Regions from separate parts of the Homo sapiens genome. Here regions 1, 3 and 4 are each reported to be linked to region 2. Evidence: microRNA targets listed by miRTarBase, many of them from high-throughput screens and not tested one by one. Region 2 holds a microRNA gene; each other region holds the end of a gene's coding sequence.
What was found. Region 2 holds the annotated microRNA hsa-miR-3665 (AGCAGGUGCGGGGCGGCG, at 1,672-1,689, shown strand). A microRNA usually pairs through its seed, bases 2 to 8, with sites in the 3' UTR of a target mRNA and lowers its output. Matches are read on the target gene's strand: a 7mer-m8 pairs with bases 2 to 8, a 7mer-A1 pairs with bases 2 to 7 and ends in A, and an 8mer does both.

Region 1 (4,993 bases), not on the chromosome of region 2:
TGGTGCAGGGAGAGGTGACAAGTGTTTTCCATAGGAACCCGCAGATGCAGGTATCCTAGAGGCTGGCACCTATGAGCTGTGGCCCCCAGGAGACCCAGTCTAGGCTCGAGACCACACCAGCCGTGCCCTCTACAGTGCCTTGTGCTGCCCAGGATCCTCAGGTTGGTCTTGTCTGCAGCCATTGTGAGTCAGCCTCACTGTCAGAAGGGCTTTCAGAGGTTGCTAGGTGCTCTGTCCATGGGAAACTGAGGTTCAGAGAGGGCCAGGGGCTCTGATCCAATGGCAGAGCCAGACTGATAACAGGGTCTAATATTCCTGGGCAGGACACAGCTGTGCCCTTGATAGTCAGAGGCAATCTGGGATGAACTGGATCCTGGGGTCAGGACCTGGGGACAGGGAGGCCGAGAGAGGGCACAGAGGTGGAGAGAAGAGAGATGAGAGCCAGGGACAGGGAACGAGGGAAGGCTGCCTAGCATCCCTGTTTCCTGAAGTCATGACTTGGGTGTCACTGACCCCACTGCTGGTGCCAGGCATGATCATGAGACCGAGGTCTGGTCAAGCAGAGTAAGAGTGATAAGCATAGGGATGGACACAAGACCAATCCTGGCTGCAGAAAATCATTCCTTTACTGGAATCATGGAGACGAGGGAGCTCCCCGGGTCAGGGATGCTGAGCTGGGAGGACATGAGCCTGGGGCTGCCAGAGCCTTCTTGTGAGGAAAGATCCTGGCTGAGAATGAAGTCAACGGGGCAGATGGAGGGGCTGAGAGGTGGAGCTGACATCATTTGAGCCTCTGGATCTAACCTCACTTGCCTTTACCCTTAGACTTTCCAGTTATGTGAGTCAATTTATTCCTTAGGGCTAGAATTTCTATCCCTTATACCTGAGTCCTGGCATGGAAGAGGAAGGAAGGTAAGAAAGAAGGATGAATATTTAAGAACAGGTGTCTGAGGCTGGGTATGGTGGCTCATGCCTGTAATCCCAGCACTTTGGGAGGCTGAGGCAGGTGGATCACATGAGGCCAGGAGTTTGAGACCAGCCTGGCCAACATGGTGAAAACCCGTTTCTACTAAAAATACAAAAGTTTTCCGGGCGTGGTGGTAGGCGTCTGTAATCCCATTACTCAGGAGGCTGAGGTAGGAGAATCACTTGAACCAGGAGGCAGAGATTGCAGTGATCTGAGATCATGCCACTGCACTCCAGCCTGGGTGACAGAGTGAGACTCTGTCTCAAAAAAATAAAATAAAATTACATAAAGAACAGGTGTCTGAGGATAACTCAAATCAGCTTCCTGCCCCCTTATAAAATGGGAGTAGAGAGGGACTTGGGCCTTCAACCCACCCAGAGGAGTTCTGTCCCTGGGCCTCACAGCTTTGCCCTGTCTCCTCTCTAGCTTGCAGTCAGCCTAGAAACTACAATAGAAAAATAAATGATGTGGATACAAAAATAAAATGCCTTTTCCTCACCTGAGTGCAGGAGAAGGGGCGGCATGTGCTGGGGAATGCCTTCCTCACCCCATTCTCCTCTTTGAGGACAAACATTTATTAGGCACCTGCTTCATGCCAGGCTCTATTAAGAAGATGACATACATGGTCTCATTTCCTCCTTGCCATAGCCCAGCCAGGAAGGAATATTATCATCTCCATTTTACAGATGGGAAAACTGAGGCTTTGATGATGTGAAGATAACTGGTGCCTTGAGAGGCTGAGCCACTGGACCAAAGTGTCAGAGCTGGAGCAGGTTTGTCCGACTCCAAAGCCCTGCCCACCACACCACACTGCACACAGTAGAGGCTAAATAAAGGTCTGCTGGGCAAATGCTGCTTAAGGCGATTTGAGCTCTCTGGGCAGCAATCTGCCCCTAAAGATTTCCCATCATGCCTGAAATGCCACCATTAGCAACCATGTCCTTTGAGTCTTGAAGGGGAAGAGTGCTAATTCCCAGGAATGAGATCAAAGTCAGTCTGTGCTGGGTTTACTCAGGGATCGGCTGAGAGTGGGACTCAGGGCTGGGGCGAGCCAGGGGGATGAAGGGGTCCCATTCCCATTGGCTCAGTCTCATCCAGGAGAAAACCTTCTGAGGACAGAGGTGTATCCTGGCGGTAGGGCAGGTGGGCTCCTGGCTATGCCTGGGTGTTGGCTGATGACAACAGGGCAGACAGCATGACACAGTGATGGGGGCAGGTGACAGAGTAGCTGTGGATCCTTTCTGACTCCATCCTCTGAAAGAAGCTATGAGGGCCCTGGTCTCCCAAACTCAGGCAGAGGCCTTATCTCCTCCCCTGCAGCTCCCCACCTACCACCACAGAGGCAGCATCACTGCTGGATGGGGAAGGGAGGGAGGCTAGGGGTTAGGGCTTGGAGGCAGAGAGGATCTGGACTTGGAGACAGATGTCCTGCCTAACAGTCCCTGTAATTGAGCCTGGGGGAGTTGAGGTTACAGGGAGTCCTAAGGGAAGCCACCCAGGTAGAGATCAGCTTCCTGGGACTTGAAGGAGCCTTGGAGGACATGAGCCTATAACACAGACAGGGACCTAGTTCTAGACCCTTCTTCAGGGATGGTATCTGTTTTAACTGAAAGGTTATTTCCAGTTGTTTTTAGAGGTTGTTTGAGGCTGTCACTGTGGCCCTTGTAGCCAAAAAGGGTGAGTATAGCTGGGGTGGGGATGGGGTCGTAGGGCTCCTCCTTATGCCAGGGGAGCACTAGCTTTGTCCAAGAGCATCTACAGTCCTGTGAGATGCTCTGGGACAAACCGAGCCCATTTTCAAATAAGTAAATTTGGAGAAAGCTGCCCACTCTAGCCCCTTCATGGGTAGTCACAAGGCACTTGGCCATATTAAAGGCTCTGATCAGTCCTGCAGTGAAGAGTGCCTGTTCACTTTGACTTAACCTGCTGTTTCCTTTTCTCATTGCTCATAGGTACTTTTAGAGACAAGCCATAGTTATTCCCTGTGACACATCCTCTAGGACATGCTGGAGGTGAAGGAGCATGTCCTTTTGGGTCTCCTAAAGACCCTGAGCTCCAAACATTGGAGCCTAGAAGTGGTGAAGTGGTAAAGCCTAGAAGTGGTGAAGTCTAAAGACCCTGAGATCTAGGGTCATTAGAACCTAGAAGTGGTGAAGTGTGAAGGGGAAATAATGATTAACCCACCCACTAAGGGGTGGATGCAGCCCCTTCAGACTTGAAAAGAAAGTTCAAGGACATCTCAAGACTAGAAAATCTTGGAACAGGAGCTTAGAATGGGAGATGGCCTTCTTGCCAATCCAAGGGAGAGAACCTGGGCCATCTGGGCAGCTTCCGATGTGCAAATACATTCCCACCTGCCTGCAACCCCACCATTGGTCATGGGAATCAAGTTTGGTCTGTTCTCAGCCCATTCAAGGTACTGTGACCCTCAGGCAGGGAGCCCCTGAAGGGGGAGGGAGAGAAGAGGGGCGAGGACTACATCAGAGGGATGGGCCCCGAACACCCTCCATGTCACAGACGGAGGGGAGTTGGGGGGCAGATGACCCTTCTGGACTTCTGGGTCAAGGAGGGCTGGCTCAGGAAGCCCAGGGTGTCAGGGAAGGCGGTGGCACAGTGTCTTGCATCTGGGTCCAGGTTGTCCAGGAGTGCCAAGTCCGAGCTTCTCCTGTGTGGTCCAGCCTCTGGCACAGCTGCTCGTTAGATGTCCAAAGGCCGTATCATCATGCGAGAGGCACGCAGTGAGTAGCTGGGGCCCTTGAAGTAGTGCCAGCGGATGCCGTCCATCTTGTACTTGTTGTCGGGAGCGTGGTAGTAGACGCCGTTGAGGTTTGACAGGCCACAGGCGTCAAACCACCACCCTGGTGGAAGAGGGAGGACAGGCGCTTGGTGGAGGTGGGAGCCCAGCCAGTGGCAAGAGGGCAGCCCCTGTGTCCCAAAGAGAACAAAGACTAATCGGGGCTGTTGCCTCCTCTGGGAAGCCAGCTGGCTGGGGATGGGGCTGGGTGGGAGTGGGGGTGGGGTGGACAACAGACCCTCTGCTCAGCCGGGGCCTCTAGAGGGCAGCAAGGGGCTCTGGCCACTCCTCGAGCCCCCTTGCTCCTCCCGGCCTTCTCCCTGAGCCCTTGGCGTCCCTGTCTTCCTCCCTCACTGAACCTGTCTTTCCAGCTCCCCAACCTCCCCTCATCGCTCTGCTCACTGCTTTCTAGTGGTCTCTGTCACTCTCTCTGAGTCTCTCACTCTCCAGGTTCATCTCTTTCTCTCTTATGGTCTCTGTGCGTGGGTCTGTCTCTGTGTGTCCCATTGTGTTCATCTTTCTCTGATGGTCTTTGTCCCTCTCTGCCTTTCGTGTCTCTGGCCCTCCCTTCCTCTGGGCCCCCATCTTTCACATGCTGTGTTTGTCTCCCGGCCTCTCCTTGGGCTAAGTCTTTCTCCCCCATCTCCCTCTGTACTTCTCTGCCCCAGTATAGCTCTCCATCTGCTGCTCAATGACTCTGACAGCCTTGGTGTCTCTCTCTTTCTCCATCTGTCCTCTGTGTCTCAGAAGGTCTCTCCCCCTGTCTCTGTTCTTCTTACTTTGTCTCTGTCTCCCATTCACCCCACTTCCTGTTCTCTGACCTCTGTGCCTACCAAGGAACACTGCCTGAGCCACAGCTGGTGTGGAGCTGCCCCTCTGCCTCCCTCTGGTCTCCTGATCCTGGTTCGGCTTGCCTGGGGTTGGGACTGATAGGGTATAGGGTGCCTCCCCCCCGGGGCCCTGCACTCAGTGTTTCTTTAGCCTTGTCTCTGAGGAAAACTGGTGGTGCCAGCTTTAGGAGGAGGTGAGACCTGGAGGGGACTTCAAGGACTCAATGGGGGAAGGCACCGAAGGGGCACAGCCAGGTGAGCTTATGGGTGGGCAAGGCCCAGACCTGCACCCATCCTCCTGACAGCACCTGGGCGCACAAGAACCTGGGGAGGGAATGGGAGTGTCAATCTGGGTGAGCCTGTGGGTGGGCGGAGCTTCACCCCACCCTGCACCTACCTCCA
Region 2 (4,993 bases):
CTGCCAAAAAGTATTAAGGTGGATGATGAATACACCTCTGAAAGGCTTACTGTAACTCCATATATTTTGATTCTTGAATGAAACCAATTAACTAATGTACTTTACAGTTAGAGCTCTCACATGACAGAGTGTAAGGGAAAAGGAACACTGCAGTTCCCAATAGGAAACCAGTAAGGATCTCCATTTCCCAATCCCTTCCATGCAATCATGCAACAGAGACACAAAGAAAGTAATGAAAACACAGCTTGGAAAAACAGAAAGGGTCCTACATAAAAAGGACCTAAAGTAAAGAAGGACTACAGCAAGCCTCCCCCTAAAGTTACTCATTCATGGAAAGTAGACAGTGCTAACCAGATGTCAACTGAATAAATGCTGTCAGCCTCAAGTTTTCTGATAACCAAGCTAAAAAGTTTCCAAGAAATAAGAAAATAAGGCTTCTCTAATCTCACTTTTCTTCTACAGTTTAATTTAAAAAATTAAAGACAGTTCGTTGGTTCCTAGGTAAAAAAATAAATAAATAAATAAAAAAGTCCCTCCCACCTGTTCATTCCACTCCAAGAAAAGTCCTCTTTATTGGCACTATTTATGGGAAAGCCAGTGAGGTCACCCCATTTTAAAAAGCAAGTCAGTCTCTGAAAATAAGATTTCAATGAAAATGCAACGCAAAAGGGCACACGACTGCAAAATTCAAACAGCAAGAACGAACCTCTCTATAAAGAGAGATCCATCACTGCGCGGCTTCCGATGCCACCCGAGGAGGAAGAGCACGCAAATCCTGTCCAGCGTTCGTTTAAAACGAAAGAACAGTAACAGTCGCAGACAGAGGCCAACCCCTACCATCCCCCGTCATCCCTCCGAAAACACTGGGGAAAAGAGCAGCACTGAGCAAAAAGACAAGATGACATGGATTTTGCACTTAATGCTAACGAGGAGCTTGGGACCCAACAATCAGCAAATAGCAGAACCCATGGCAGATGGGGGGAAGGGGGGGCCGGTTCATCCGCAGTCGGAGCGATTAGAAAACAGGTTTCTGCCTTCATGAGAAGCCTCATCGTGGGAAGTGTCACCGCCTGGCTCAACACCTGCTGGGTCGGCCCCTCCGGGAGCCGCGGGGAGTCACCCCGGCTGCCGCGAGGGGACCCCCGTCCGCCCCCCGCCCCCGCTCCCCGGTGCCCGAAGCCCCCGAGGCCAGGGTCTCGGGGAAGGAGCGGAGCCAGGCAGTACCAGGTGTAGTCGTCCTCGTCCCGCCAGGCGGCTACGCTCTCCAGATCCAGCAATTCCACCTCGTCCAGCAGCGTGGGGGGCGGCGAGGGCGGCGCTGCAGCTGCCCCTGGCGGCGTCCCCGCGCCCCCCGGCTCCGGCCCGCCACCGCCCGCGCCGAAGAAGCCTGCTGCCGGCTTGAAGTAGACGAAGGGCGCCTCGGGTGGCTGCGCCAGGCTGCAAAGCAGGGAGGGCGCGGGGCTAGGCAGGCAGAAGGTGCCCGGGAACGCGGGGCTGGAGCCACCGCCGCTGCCACTACCGCTGCCGCCACCGCCCCCCGCGCCCAGCGCCAGCCCGAGCCCCAGGCCCCCTGAGGCCGCGGCGGTGGCCGTGGCGGCCGGGGGGCTCCGAGGACCCAAAGGCTGCAGGCCAGCGGGGGGCGGCGCGGCGGGCGGCGGCGGCGGCAGCAGCAGCAGGTGCGGGGCGGCGGCCGCGCTGGCCGCTCGACTCCGCAGCTGCTCGTTCTGCTTCTCCAGCTTGCGCACCAGCTCCTGCAGCTTCTTCACCTCCAGCTCCGCGTTCACCACCGGCCCGGAGCCCGCTCCAGAGCTGACCCCTGCCGAGGCGCATTTCACCTGCTCCGCCATCATCGTGGGCCCCGAGGGCGCCGCGGCCGCCGGGGAGTGCGCGCCGCCGCGCCGGCTCCTCGGGCCACGGGGAGGCTACGGCTCCTTCCCTGTCGCCCCGGCCTGGGGGGCCGACCACGCGCGGGCTGAGGCCGAGCCGGCGGTTCGCATCAGCACCGGGCCCTCGCCTCCGGCCGCGGCAGCCACCACCGAGCTGATCTGCACATGCTCAGTGCGTCCCTCCAGTCCCCTGGGCGTCGCGGCGGCTCCGGGTTTTAGCCGCGGCCCCGGAGCGGGGCGGGGCAAGAGCGCCGAGGGGGCGGGTGGGGGGGGGGGGGCGGAGAACCGTGGGGAAGCCCACCCAGGGGGCGGGGCCGGCAGCCCGGGTTGGGGCCGGGGAGCCGCACCCACCCTCGCTACCTAATCCCAGGGGCCTGATTGGACCTGGCCTGAACTTTCCCGCCACAAGCACCTCCTCCTGCCGCTTGGTGGGACAGTGAACTGCGCGGGTCTCTGAGGCGGTTGCGGGGACCAGGGGGTTCCCAAAGAAGCAGCTGCAGGTGCTGGCCCTCGAGTAGTGCACCACCGGCCCGCTGGTTTGCTCCCTTCCCAGCTCTCTGTTAGGCTCCGTGACAGCACTTAATAGCCACTGGCTAACGAATCCTATAGAAAACTTAAAGGCTGGGGATCGTTATTCTAAAAACCGAAAAGTGGAGATAGGGGGAACAGAAAGGCTTTGGGACCATGCCACTCATGTTCTCATTGGTAATAGAGAAGCAAAATGGTGGGAGACAGGAGACCGAGAAGAAAGAGAAGAAAGCCCTCTCTCTAAGAGGTAGAGTGGCCAGCTGCTAAGGAGACAAGTGTTTACTTATTTATTCTAAAATAGTCAAATTTGAACTGTTACCATCATTGTTTGTCACAATAAAAGAAGAACTGCTTTTTTTTTCATACTATGTATATTCATGCATTCCCCAAACAAAAGATCTTTGAGCACCTACTCTGTGCCAGGAACCATTCTAAGAGCTCGTGATGCGGGCAATGAGTACAATAGGCAAAAATGGTTATGGGGAGAAATATGAGTAAAATTGTTTAGTGCTCCTTCTATTAAATAATGTGTAAGTTATTAAAGTCAGACTTGCTGGTGGGAAAGCAGAAAACAGAAAACCTCAGAATTCTACCCAATACACTTTAATCTCACCTGCAAACCTGCTATTTCTTACCACTTGGAAAACGAGCAAATCTGCTTTTTTTAAAAGAGGCTTTTAAGCAGAAGAATTTAATCGAGTTGTGTTCAATGAATACTGACTGACTTAGCATTTTGAGTGTTTAACACAATCAGAGGAAAACCTGAGATTATATTATGAGAAAAATCTACACCACTGGTTCTCATCCTCAGATGATATACTATCTAGTGAAAGTCCTTGCTAGGGACTTTACATACCAATCTTTGTGACAATGTACCTCATTTCTCTGGAGCTGCTAACACATCGTATCTATTGGTTTCAGATATGGTTTTGTGTCTTCCTGCTCAGAAACACTTGTATCTTCTCAGTTGTTAATCTACATCTCTAGCTTCTGTGTGCAGGGTGGATGTTCTGCATTTAACATGCTTGGTGAGCGCTTCCATAAATTAGCTAAATGCGTGTGATGACTCCCTTAACCTTCCCTGTGTCCCAGCTTGCTAGCCCACCACCTAACCACCTGTATCACCCATCACCTTTCCAAGTTTCGGTATATCTTTAGGATTTTTTTTGGTTATTACCAAAACCTGGAGAAATGGAGTAATACTACTGAAAGTCCTAAGTAAAGAATCTATTGAAGGATTTTTCCCGCATGCTCAGTGGCAGATGCGGGTAGCAGTATCTCCCTGCAACACAAAGAAAGGGAGACGACAGACACAATGAGAACAAAGAGCTGCTGGGTCCCAGACTAGAGAAAGAAATTGGGAATAGGCACATAATAGTGAAGACAACAAGAATTAAGATGTAAAGAAAAGCCGTCATTTTACTGCACAATTTATATACACTCTAAAGAAGGAGAGAAACAGACAGCCCTTTCCTCCTTCATTTACCCAATATGGTCTATATACATCCAACAAGCAGTAGCCAAGCTTTTGAACCCTGTTTTCTAAGTAATAATTATCATAAAAATCTTTGTTCTTTAAAAAGAAAGCATGCATTGAAATTTAGACATAGAAAAGAGATGAAACATTGTTTTACAATTCTAGTCTGCATTATTCTTCTGAAAAGACAAATTTGCCCTTTTCCTACCTATTTTAAAAGTGTGAAATTATTAATGTCTAAAGAAAATTTAAATCATGTTTTTGCTTTCTCTTAATGCCCCTCTTTTTTTCCCTTCTGTGAATTGCACATGTACACACACCAGAGACACTCAAAATGCACACTGATTTCAAGTTGGTGTCCCCAGGATGCCAGTCTCTTTAACGTATAATTAAAGAGGTTGATGGTGTCAAGGTTTTAATTAAGCAGTCTTGATTTTTTTATTTTGATGCAAATTAGTAAGCTTTGTGTTTTGAAAGAAATTGCATGCTGTAGTTGCTCAATTGTAATGTTTTGATTTTAAATAAAATATGTAGGTGATTTCAGAGGTTTACAAAGAGGATATGAAAAATGAAAGTGCATGTCTCATTTAAAAGTTTATGCTTTAAGCATACATTTGATACACCATAAGGTAATGTGAAACATCCACATATCACACATTCAAAACTGGATAAAGAAATGCATGTTTCTCTCTATTCATTACACTTCAGAACTATCATCACTCTAGTGAATTTTAAGAAAGCACATGAACTTATTTTAATTTGTATTTTTCACATATATTTCTAATACTGTGTATGAACATTAAATAGATCCAGCAACAGAATCGCAAAAGCACCCATAGGTTCTTGAGTATATAAAAATAATTCTCAAAGGAAATCTAGAAACAGCCTGTTATTATCCCAGTTTTACAGATGAGCTTACAAGGTTATGTTACTTGCCCAAGTTCACTCATGAAAATGATGGTTCTTAGCAGTTGCTAGTGGGCCAGAGTAAAATTTCTCCTAGAGTAAGATTCATACGTTTAAATTTTGCGATCAGTGCAGCTGACATACCCTAATATGAGCACTACATTAATTCAAGTTTATAGATCCAATTACTGCAAGA
Region 3 (4,993 bases), not on the chromosome of region 2:
CGTGACAGCTCCTAGGCAGGCATTGCTGCCATGTGGCTGACTCTGTCCCTTTCCTGGTTAAATAGACAAGGGGTGGGCGTGGGGGAAGGGGATAGAGTGCCTGTGCGGGTGACAAGGAAGTTTCTGGGGACACGCTCTCTGCGGCCGCAGACCAATTGAGTCCATGTCCTTTCACTGCTCCTCCCATACACACACTGGCCTCTGGCACCCCGGGGGCCTGGCCACCTGGGCAGAAGGAAGGAGGGAGCGGGCTGGAGTCACTCCCCAAACCTCTCTCGGAGGGATTCCAGCTCCAGGTGGTGGTGGTGGGGTCGGTCTCTACCCGGCTGGTGTCTGCTTTGGCTGTTCCTGCCCTGCGAACACTGTCCCCGGAGCGGGACCAGACTACTGGCCTCTGAGCATCGGGCCAAGTCCAGCTACTGAACCTGCTCCGCTCCTCTCCCCAGGTGTGGTTCCAGAACCGGCGCATGAAGGACAAGCGGCAGCGCCTGGCCATGACGTGGCCGCACCCGGCGGACCCCGCCTTCTACACTTACATGATGAGCCATGCGGCGGCCGCGGGCGGCCTGCCCTACCCCTTCCCATCGCACCTGCCCCTGCCCTACTACTCGCCGGTGGGCCTGGGCGCCGCATCCGCCGCCTCCGCCGCCGCCTCGCCCTTCAGCGGCTCGCTGCGCCCGCTCGACACGTTCCGCGTGCTGTCGCAGCCCTACCCGCGGCCCGAACTGCTGTGCGCCTTCCGCCACCCGCCGCTCTACCCCGGGCCCGCGCACGGACTGGGCGCCTCTGCCGGCGGCCCCTGCTCCTGCCTCGCCTGTCACAGCGGCCCGGCCAACGGGCTGGCGCCCCGGGCTGCCGCCGCCTCGGACTTCACCTGTGCCTCCACCTCCCGCTCGGACTCCTTCCTCACCTTCGCGCCCTCGGTGCTCAGCAAGGCCTCCTCCGTCGCGCTGGACCAGAGGGAGGAGGTGCCCCTCACTAGATAAGGGGCCGCCGGCTGGCTGCCGGCTCCATGACGCCCGTGGGGTCACCCCCCGGCCCCGGGACTCAGCCAGCCTCGCTCCTCGCTCCTCGCTCCTCGCCCCTAGGACGCCAAGGGGGAAAGGAGAGGGCGGAAAAGGACCAGCGGGATCCGGCCGCAAGAATTGGAAAGCCTAGGAAGTGGCGGTGGCTGGCGCGTTTGGGGAGCAGGAGTGGGGATAGGGAAGCAGAGCTTGAGAGACCTTCCTCCGGGGCAGCCTCCGGACCCACCGCCCCCCACCAGGGTCGAGGCTGTAGCTCCAAAGCTAAACAAAACTTAGCAGCAACAGCAACCAATATCCAGTCCCTCGGCCCCTCGGCCCCTCACCCTCCACCTCACACTCCCTTCTCACCGGGCCCCCTCTCCCCAGCCAAGGCCCAAGCACTGGAAAGGGAAATTGCTGTCTCTCTGAACAAAATGCTGTGTATGCAGAGCAGGTAGAGATTAATCTTTGCCAGCTTTTCCAAGGCATGACAAGGGGCTGGTGGATGGCAACATACCAGTCATTTGGAGGAGAGAGTGAGAGATGATTTACTACCAGGGAGAATCCAGCCCCTTGGCATGGGACCTGGAGCCTCGACTACACAGCATCTTCTGGGTCTGGCGTCTGCCAGCACCTGATCTCTTTCCTCATTCCCAGCTTTGTGACACTTCTCAACTTGCGGCTCCATCTCTCCCTGCCCCCACTTTTTTGTTGGCCAGGGAGGCTGCAGATGCCCCAGGAGCCCTTTGCCGCTTCTATGAGGCCAAGCCTTTTTTCCCTGGGCCCAGCACACACCCTGATTAGCAAGTGATGTGTGCGAGGAGGGTTTGTGAATGTTGAATGTGTAATAATGATCACCATGGAGCTGGCCACTGACCCCAGAGCTGAGCTGTTAACAAGGCGCCCAGGGAAGAGCTTAGGGAGTGGGAACTTCACCTCCCTCTCTCGGTATCTGGCGGTAAATTAGAGGCAATTTTCATCCTTTGCTTGTTCACCTTCACTTCACCAGGAACTTTCTGGCCCTACCCTTTGCATTGGGTATTTTACAACTTTCTCTCATTTTCTTCCCAAGCTACCACTGGAGCTTGACTTTCAGATACCAGTGGGAGCCTTCTGTCCCTTTTGGGGACCCTGTCTGTGGCCTCCACCAGGGTTTGTTTAGAGCCACTCCCAAATCCTCACTCCCACACTCATCCTTGCAGCCAGTTTTTGAGGAAGAGGAGAACGTGTAACCCCAATGCAAGCTTCACCCTGACTGAGAGGGAGTGGTTCTTCCTGTAGGGAATGAATTTGGTTTGATTTGGGGTTTTCCTTTGAAGCCCAAAGAACTTGCTGTTATGATTCGTTAACCATATTGCAATAAAAGCTGGACATAATTCTCACTTTACATTTTAGTTTTTGTGGCAGCAGGCAGCTCTTAACTGAATTTTAAAGTTGCTATTTCAGCCACCATGGGTTCGAATAGGGAAGGAACCAAAAGATGGACCCACAGAGTCTTCCAAGCCACTGTTTGTCACTGGTAGGCTCCAAGCAGCCATTGCATGGAGGTGGAGAAGACAGGCTCCAAGCTGCCCTGGGGTGCATGTTTCCTTAATTTTGGGTATGTTGGGAACAGTTCCTTGGTAAAGTGGCAGCAGAGTGCTGCCAGGGGCCCACCCCTGTGGTTTCTTCTCCAGTTGTTCCAATCCTTTGAGCAACAGAAAGGGGACCCAGGTTGTGGTCTCTGAGCAACCTGCCTCCACCCCAGCCCAAAGGGAAGGTGAGTGGGGCAGTGGCAGTAGAGCCTGAGTACTGCAGAGACCTGAGTTTTCTGGTCAAACTGGGTCTGCACTTGAGGGTGGAGGACAGCAGGGAGGAAGGCTCCTTGGTTGGGATCATCTTGGTCTGAATTGTCCTCATACTGGAAGTCATCTTGAGGGTGGGATTCTGAGGGGTTAGGACAAGAGGAAAGGAGTGCTCAGCAGCTACCTTCCAGCCCGCACCTGCATCCCCCACAGGAGAGCCAAATGTGGCTGGTTGTGGAGTTCCACTTAAGCAGGGGAGAGATGGGTGCCTTCTGGGAGTCCAGGAGGCTCTGGATTGCATAGACACGAGGAGTCCTCTGCCACTGTCTTTGCCAGCACATAGAGACTCCTCAAATGCCCTCCTCCCTCCTTGGGTTCCACAGCAAATCCTCCTGCACACAGTAGCAGGTGCCCTCCCAAGCAAATTGTGCCCTGAGGTTTCCAGCACCCCCTCTCCTGCAGCCAAAAGCTCCTGAGTGCCAAATCCTGGTAAATTTTGCAGTTGCTCCATATTGGGCAGAGATTGCTTGCGACAGGTAAATGGGCTGCATGTTGCCTTAATGCCAGGCGTATTTTCAGTTAATAGGGAGGGAAAATGAGGTGTCTGCAGAGATATTGGAAAGTACAAGATCGATGATCCAGCTTCGTGTCCAATCAGCAGCCTTTAATTGACTGTATTTTCTGGGTAATTGAGCCTCTCTTCCTCCAAATTGAAGTGGAAGATATAACAATACATCTTGCCAGGAGGAATTACTCATTACTTCATAATGAAATTTCCCTTTTGCCAAGGTTTGCGGTTTGGCGCTAGGCACGACTTCTCACTCCCCCTCTCCCCCCAAATATTCTTAGCCCACTTGCATCAGGCTACCCCATCTGGCATGACACGTTCCATTTGGGTGGTGGCAGGGAGGAAGTGGGAGTTGACTTGAAGAAGATACTGCCCCTTCACAATCACAGCCTCCTTATCTGTAAAATGAGAAGGCTAGACCAGGGCCTAGCATGATGTTGTTTTCATTTTTCAACTCTCTCAGTGTCTCTACTTAGCTTTGCCTCATCTCGGTTCCATTTTGCAGGAGGGAAAACGGAGGCTCCAGGTCTACACAGCTATTAGTGGCCGATGTAGCTATGAGCTCCGGGCTCCCACTTCCTCTTCTCTTACCCTGTTCTGGGGCACAGATTCTGAGGTAACCCCCAGTGAAGCCTGACACCTCACTCCCGACTCACGCTTTCCCAGGGCTCTTCAATCCCGGCCAGCCGGCAGGGCCTGGGAGCGCGGTCCAGCGCCCAGCCCAGATTCGCCCAGTTGGGCAAGGCTGGCCACCCCGCAGCCCGAGTGTGCACCGGCCCCCGGCAATTGCTGGCTTGTTAGCGTGTGATTGATTGCCTTATTAAAGCGTGTTCTTGTAAGTGTGACCAAACTGATTGCATTGCATATGTTTGGGATAATGCTCATTTTAAACAACAGGATAAAGAGGATGAGCTCCGCAGAGCCTTGAAGACAAAATGATTCTGGCTAGCAGCTCCCTAACTATGGCATTAAATTGCTCAGTTACATAGCAAATCGCTACTTGGTTTCTGCATCCTTGTCCGTATTTTTTTTTTTTCTGTCCTACAGTTTGATCCTGTCTCCCAATGTGGCATGCCCCACGAACGGTTTCTTTAGTGATTATGTTGACTCCACCTTCCTAGTTTCAAACCCTGCACCCGCACTCTCCAGACAGGAAGTCCCTCTCCCTCGACCAGGGATTGAGGGAGAAGAGATTCAGAATGCATCTCCTTGCCCTAGGCCTTTCGGGGGGGACATGGCCTTAGACAGTCACCCCGAAATTGGGCTCAGGTCCTCACAGTAAGTCGAGTGTCCCCCCACATCCCCAACCCCGGCCCTTTCACTAAAGTTTAAAAGATTCTTTTGTTCCTCAGGCTTCTCCCGCTTGGTTGCTTCCATTATTCCCCAACTGCGGAAACACCAGCCACCATATGTCCGCCGGAGAATAAGCGTGAGTGTCGCGGTGGACAGTTGCCGCCAAAGGTGTCCAGACGGATGGCATTCTCAAAGTAGGGATCTTAGCATCCTCTCCATACATCATCACCCAAGAATGGTAGAGGAAAGAGTAGGAGTGGGGTTACAGATAGGAGAGAAAGGAGGTTGAGGCCACAAAATTGGCATTTCTCTAATTATCAACCCCCTCCTCCACCATCCTGCCA
Region 4 (4,993 bases), not on the chromosome of region 2:
AAGATTTGCTTTTATAGTTATATACTCCCCAACGTGAGGTCAGGGACTGGAGCACAGAGTCCCACTTATCTTAGGTAAGAGTTGGTCATGCTGATATTTATATAAGATCCCACATTTGTGGAACAACCAAATTGTTCTCAATAGCAAGGCTGTGCTAAGAGATGGAGGAAAATCAAGTTCTGATGACATTCGTTGAGTCCTTAATTCAATTGTGGTGCCTGGACTTTTCCTATTATGGAGGTAGTACATTGTTTTCTTGATTAGGCCACTTTTCTTGACATCTGTGGAAAAAAGAGACCTAACTGGCCAGGTTTTTCCTTAACACTAGACACTGCAATGCAAGGCATTGTGGGGAAAAAAGTAGCACCTTAACTTGCAGTTACTTGTTATTCCTGCAAAAACAGAACGTAACACACATGTAAACTATTTAATTCACTCCTTTATTCTGGGATGTATATTACAGATAACACAACTCACAAATATACCATCAGACATTGAAAACTAAGGCCATTCTGTGAGTTATTTTTAAAACTTGGTGTTTTGCACATAATGATCTTAAAAAAAAATGAATTACCAAAACCAAGATTCTCTTCTAAAATGAAAATTTAATGCAGGTACAGGATAACTTTAGGGCTATATCTAATCTGAAGCTTATCAGGTAGCAAAACCATTTTCGTTTTCTACAGCATAAATAACAGCTCTAAGGCAACCACTACCTCAGCATGAAGCTCATTTCTCCACGTTAGAGTAGTGTTTACCTGCTACAGTGACCAGTGTTTAGAGACCATTTCCCTTTCAGTAGCAAAAAGAGACTTTACCTAAGAAACACACTACATACTACAGAATCCTTGGAACAAGAAACAGAAAGGGAGCTGTAACTAAGGCACTGAAAGCACATTATTTGTATAAAGAAATGTAAACAATTTAACACCAACAGGCTCCCTCCGTTGGAGTCTTTATTGTAAATGCACACAGGGGCATCATAGTCAGGGCTAGAGTTTGAAGTCTGGGTGAAACAAATGTTTCTGCAGAGTTCAGAGTCTTGGCTGCCAATATATTTCTAACATGGTGCTGTTGAATTAACTATTTCAAAGTGACTCAAGTGGAAGCTGGTATTTCCCTTGAATCTGAGTTTTAATAGCATTAACAAACAAGGAAGAATTTTATAGGAGTCCTAAAATTACGGGCTCTTTCTAACATTTATTTGAGTCTTTTATCAAGTTCTTCTAATGAATTTTAGGATTATTTTGGCTTATTTCATCAAGGAAGTTTGGTGTAAGAACTTGTTACCTAATGAGTGCCCCTCCTTGTAAGTTCATATTTCAAGTTACATGGTTCATGCCATAAATAAACCACACTTGCTTTAACATCGTTCAGAATGGTACATTTAACAATTGGACATACAGCACTGTAAACAATTCAAAGTCCATTGAGCTTACCATGAAAGAACTGAAACGTATGTAGGAACTGTGTCCTGCTGCAGACAAGCAGCTGCTCTGGCTCTGGTGCGGTGCGGTGCAGTGAGGTGAGGTGGGCAGGTGTGGAAGGGAGAATTCCTGAGGCCAGTCACAATTATTGAAGCTAAATTAATTTCTTCCTGACACTTTAGCATTAATTCTAAGTAGTTCTAAGTTCTAAACCATTAACTGTATAGTTAATTTTTTTAAATCAAAGAAGAAAAAGGCTTTCACACAGATGAATGTATAGGAAAACACAAGTAATGACAATTTTCAAGAGCCTTATTGTAAAAAAAGAAAGAAAGAAAAAAGGACAATTATTTTTGGAGTTACTGTCTCTAATTCTTAAAAAGTAAGTACAGTGTCTGTATCTCTAAGTTTTAGTGCTATACAGCACTAAATGTACTTTATGAATTTGGGGTAGGTAAAGTTTGTATTTTATCTTAAACATGTTTTCTATGATGAAAAGGAACAAAATTGTAAAAAATGAGGATCTTCCCTCTAAAGGTTTCAAAGCGTTAGAGGACATGCAATTAAATGTTGTTACACCTTGAACAATGAGCCTCTTGAGTTTGTAGGAAGGGCAGACCGGCTCCATTACCAACAACTTTGGGGTAGAAAGCACAGCTCTCCTCTTTTACCCAGCACAAATGCAATCCTGATTATAAAACTATTTGTGTTTCTAAATACAACCAAAGGAAATCTTAGAGAAACATAAATTAGAAACCTCTTTTATTAAGGGGAAACAACAAAAAAAGGTGCTTTTTTAAAAAAAAAAAAAAAAAAAGAAAAGAAAAAGAAAAAACAAGCTGTAAAACCATGAAGTTAAAGAGCTGGGTCTGGAGCAGATGTGCATAATAACTAGTTAGTTGCTCCCAGCAGGATCAGAAACAGCTTTGGGGGAGCAGAGGAATATGGGTTGGTGTGTTTCAGAAGAGGCACCAGTTAATACTCTTCCAATAAAAATGATGTGTCAACAGTGTTCAGCCTCAACCAGTGCTTTCTCACAGAATCTGCTTGGTAAGTTCAGTTCACAATGTGTTTACCTTTCATGGCAATGCACGATGCAATTATTGGGTAGGTCACTGTCAAGCAAAAACGAGATATAATTACAGAGAAGGCATTAATGCCCAAAGAGTACATAAAGCAGTAAGTAGCTTCTGAGGCTGGTTCAATGCAGAAGTAAAACTAACAGGTTTGCTAACAGCTAAAGACTTTTAATTGCCTCATATTTTCTGCAGCTCTGACCAGCATCCTTCTTACACGACAAAAAAAAAAAGAAAAAAAAAAAGAAAAAAAAGTGTGCAGCTCCAACAGAGTGAAAATGACAACACTTTTCTTTTGCCTCAGAAGAAGACTGGTGCTTGGTGTGCTGGATTTTCCACTGACTCCAAATGACAAGAATATTTGGGCAAACAATTGGTCAAAAGTGGGTTTAAATATTACTATTGAAAAAGGAAGGCTAAAACTAAAAAGAAAGATCACTTGCTATCATTATTAAGGATTAATTTTTGTGTTTCATTTTGGTTTTAAGGTAAAATTTGTCAAGGCTACAAGGGGTTGAGTAATTTAGGATAAACCATTACTGCCCTGTCTGCAAGCCATTTGTTGTTTTAATGGTAGATGTTAGATACCCAAGCACATGTAGAAAAAACAACCTTCCTTTTTTGGTAGGTTGTAAAGAAATATTTCAAAAGACAGTTTCTGACTGGAATGACAGAATGTTCTGAGTGTTCCTTTAAAAAAGTATGTGACTTCATGTATACCATTTTTAACAGAAAAAGCTACACCTGCCAAAATGTTGTAAGAAAACCAGCACTAAGCATGCAATACTGAGTGTGAGAAAGGAACTTAAACTGTATTACTTCCTATCTTTTAAAATTCAAACTAAAGTTTCAAAGTGGAGAGCCTGTGGTTGCTCCCTGAGTCCAGGTTTTATCTTCCACGAGAGAAAAGGGCACAGGTGGTCTTCTGACGTCTTGGTCAGCATACAATGTTATGAATAATGAAGGGCTTCCTGTCAAAATGCTTGATCGGTTTCACGACAAAGGGGGTTCCATTTTCTGATCTTAAGGATGAGATGGGTTTGGCGCAGGAAGAAGGACGCCAAGGGAGGGAGCCTGGGCACCACCTGCCTGAGTACCTGGAGGGACAGCGCTCACCTCAATGAGGTGACCTGGGCAGTCCAGTAACAGCATGTGATCCGGGCTGTTGTTGACGAGTTCCAGATCTGCCTCTGGTACGGGGAGTCTGTTAGGATTGGGCCTTTAAGAAAAATGTGTGTGTTCCTTGTCGCTAAAAGCCTGATGATTGTTTAATAATATTCTGGCCCAAGTTATTTCACCCCGATCACTCCCTGCTATGTACACAGTATCGAAATTACATTCAGAGATTAAAAAAAATTGTAGCAATATTTTTCCCACAAAATTAAGTGCAAAATATCTTTAACAAATAATGATGGCAGTAAGAAATATTCGACATAGTCATGCAAAAATGCATCTGAGCTTAGAAAGGTTTAGAACATTTCCAAAATATGCTCTAGGTTTTCACATGGCAAACCTTATAATCTTACTCATTTTTCTTTGAATTTAAATGTGGCTGTTTGTGTAAAAGTCGGTAACATGCAAGTTCTATGATCTCCAGTCCACCAAATATTCTCTCTTGCAGCACAAAGATTACAATGGTGATTATAAAATACCACTTAACAAGACTGTACAAATATATGAGTAGGCACATTGCAGGGCTGAACAGGGTCCAATACAGTATAGAGAGCAATTTGACCACAAGGACCCTGAGTTCAGACTTGCAAGGTGGAATGACACTCTGTCCGGTAAAATAAAAATTCTTCTCCCCTTGATAGAAGGAACGCAGCCTCTCTTCTTTCTCTTCCCACCGTTTGTGGCACCAGAGTTGAAGGTCCTCCTTGGATGTGGGGAGGGTGTCTATTGGATACCGGTGGACGTGAAAGTGGATTTCCCTGGGAAAGTCTCCTTGGAGGAGGTGCTTCTCTGATTGAGGAATGTTGTGAGGATACGCCACAGTGATATCATGGACAGCATCAAGGTTCTTACCTGGGTTTCGAAAAGATGAAAACATAGATTAAGCAGTGCTCAATTTGGGTGATAATGCTGATTCACACTGCAGGGCAGCACCAGAAACCGAAAAATCAGGACAGTGTGAACCACAATGAACAAACAAGGGTTAGAGATACTGGTGTTCCTGGACACCTGGGTCAATATTTACCAGTCATCTTTAGTTTTATTTCCTGCTTGCTAATTACCACAAAATATTTAGAAAGAAAATATCTTCATTTGCAGAAACAGTAATCTGCCATTCTAAAACTACTAAGCACATTAACTCAAATTTGAGATGGGAATTAAACATTACAGGGCTAGCTCCTTAAACACCAATAGAATTCAGTTTTGATACCTCCTATTAATATAGCCATCTCTCCAAATAAAAGTAGACTTTCTCACCTTTAACCCAATGTTACCACGATAGCTACTGAAAAGAAAAACTTAACTTAAAATCAGACT

Region 1: miRTarBase lists ANGPT4 as a target of hsa-miR-3665. Seed matches in the 3' UTR shown: 7mer-m8 at 2,180-2,186, 7mer-m8 at 2,107-2,113 and 7mer-m8 at 1,003-1,009.
Region 3: miRTarBase lists EVX1 as a target of hsa-miR-3665. The part of its 3' UTR that is shown has no 7-base or 8-base seed match.
Region 4: the mRNA of LCLAT1 is a reported target of hsa-miR-3665. Seed matches in the 3' UTR shown: 7mer-m8 at 1,535-1,541 and 7mer-A1 at 610-616.

What each region holds. Positions count from the first base shown.
Region 1 is chr20:869,296-874,288 of GRCh38, forward strand. It overlaps ANGPT4 (angiopoietin 4), which reads right to left. Exons shown (of 9, transcript NM_015985.4): 8 at 4,989-4,993; 9 at 605-3,825. The coding sequence ends at 3,665. LOC124904854 (a long non-coding RNA gene) reads left to right here and starts at 1,657. Exons shown (of 3, transcript XR_007067485.1): 1 at 1,657-1,740; 2 at 3,602-4,846. RefSeq lists enhancers at 3,224-3,724, 3,725-4,225.
Region 2 is chr13:77,694,771-77,699,763 of GRCh38, reverse strand. It overlaps MIR3665 (microRNA 3665), which reads left to right and starts at 1,648; the gene lies at 1,648-1,752. SLAIN1 (SLAIN motif family member 1) reads right to left here and starts at 2,077. Exons shown (of 7, transcript NM_001242868.2): 1 at 1,225-2,077. The coding sequence starts at 1,850. RefSeq lists silencers at 1,010-1,159, 1,320-1,559, 1,760-2,319.
Region 3 is chr7:27,245,440-27,250,432 of GRCh38, forward strand. EVX1 (even-skipped homeobox 1) reads left to right here. Exons shown (of 3, transcript NM_001989.5): 3 at 447-2,391. The coding sequence ends at 986. It overlaps EVX1-AS (EVX1 antisense RNA), which reads right to left and starts at 1,790. Exons shown (of 4, transcript NR_120507.1): 1 at 1,522-1,790. RefSeq lists enhancers at 1-388, 389-998, 3,210-4,433.
Region 4 is chr2:30,639,652-30,644,644 of GRCh38, reverse strand. LCLAT1 (lysocardiolipin acyltransferase 1) reads right to left here. Exons shown (of 6, transcript NM_001002257.3): 6 at 420-4,528. The coding sequence ends at 4,026. Among named protein-coding and RNA genes, the nearest start is that of CAPN13, 170 kb to the left of the region's middle.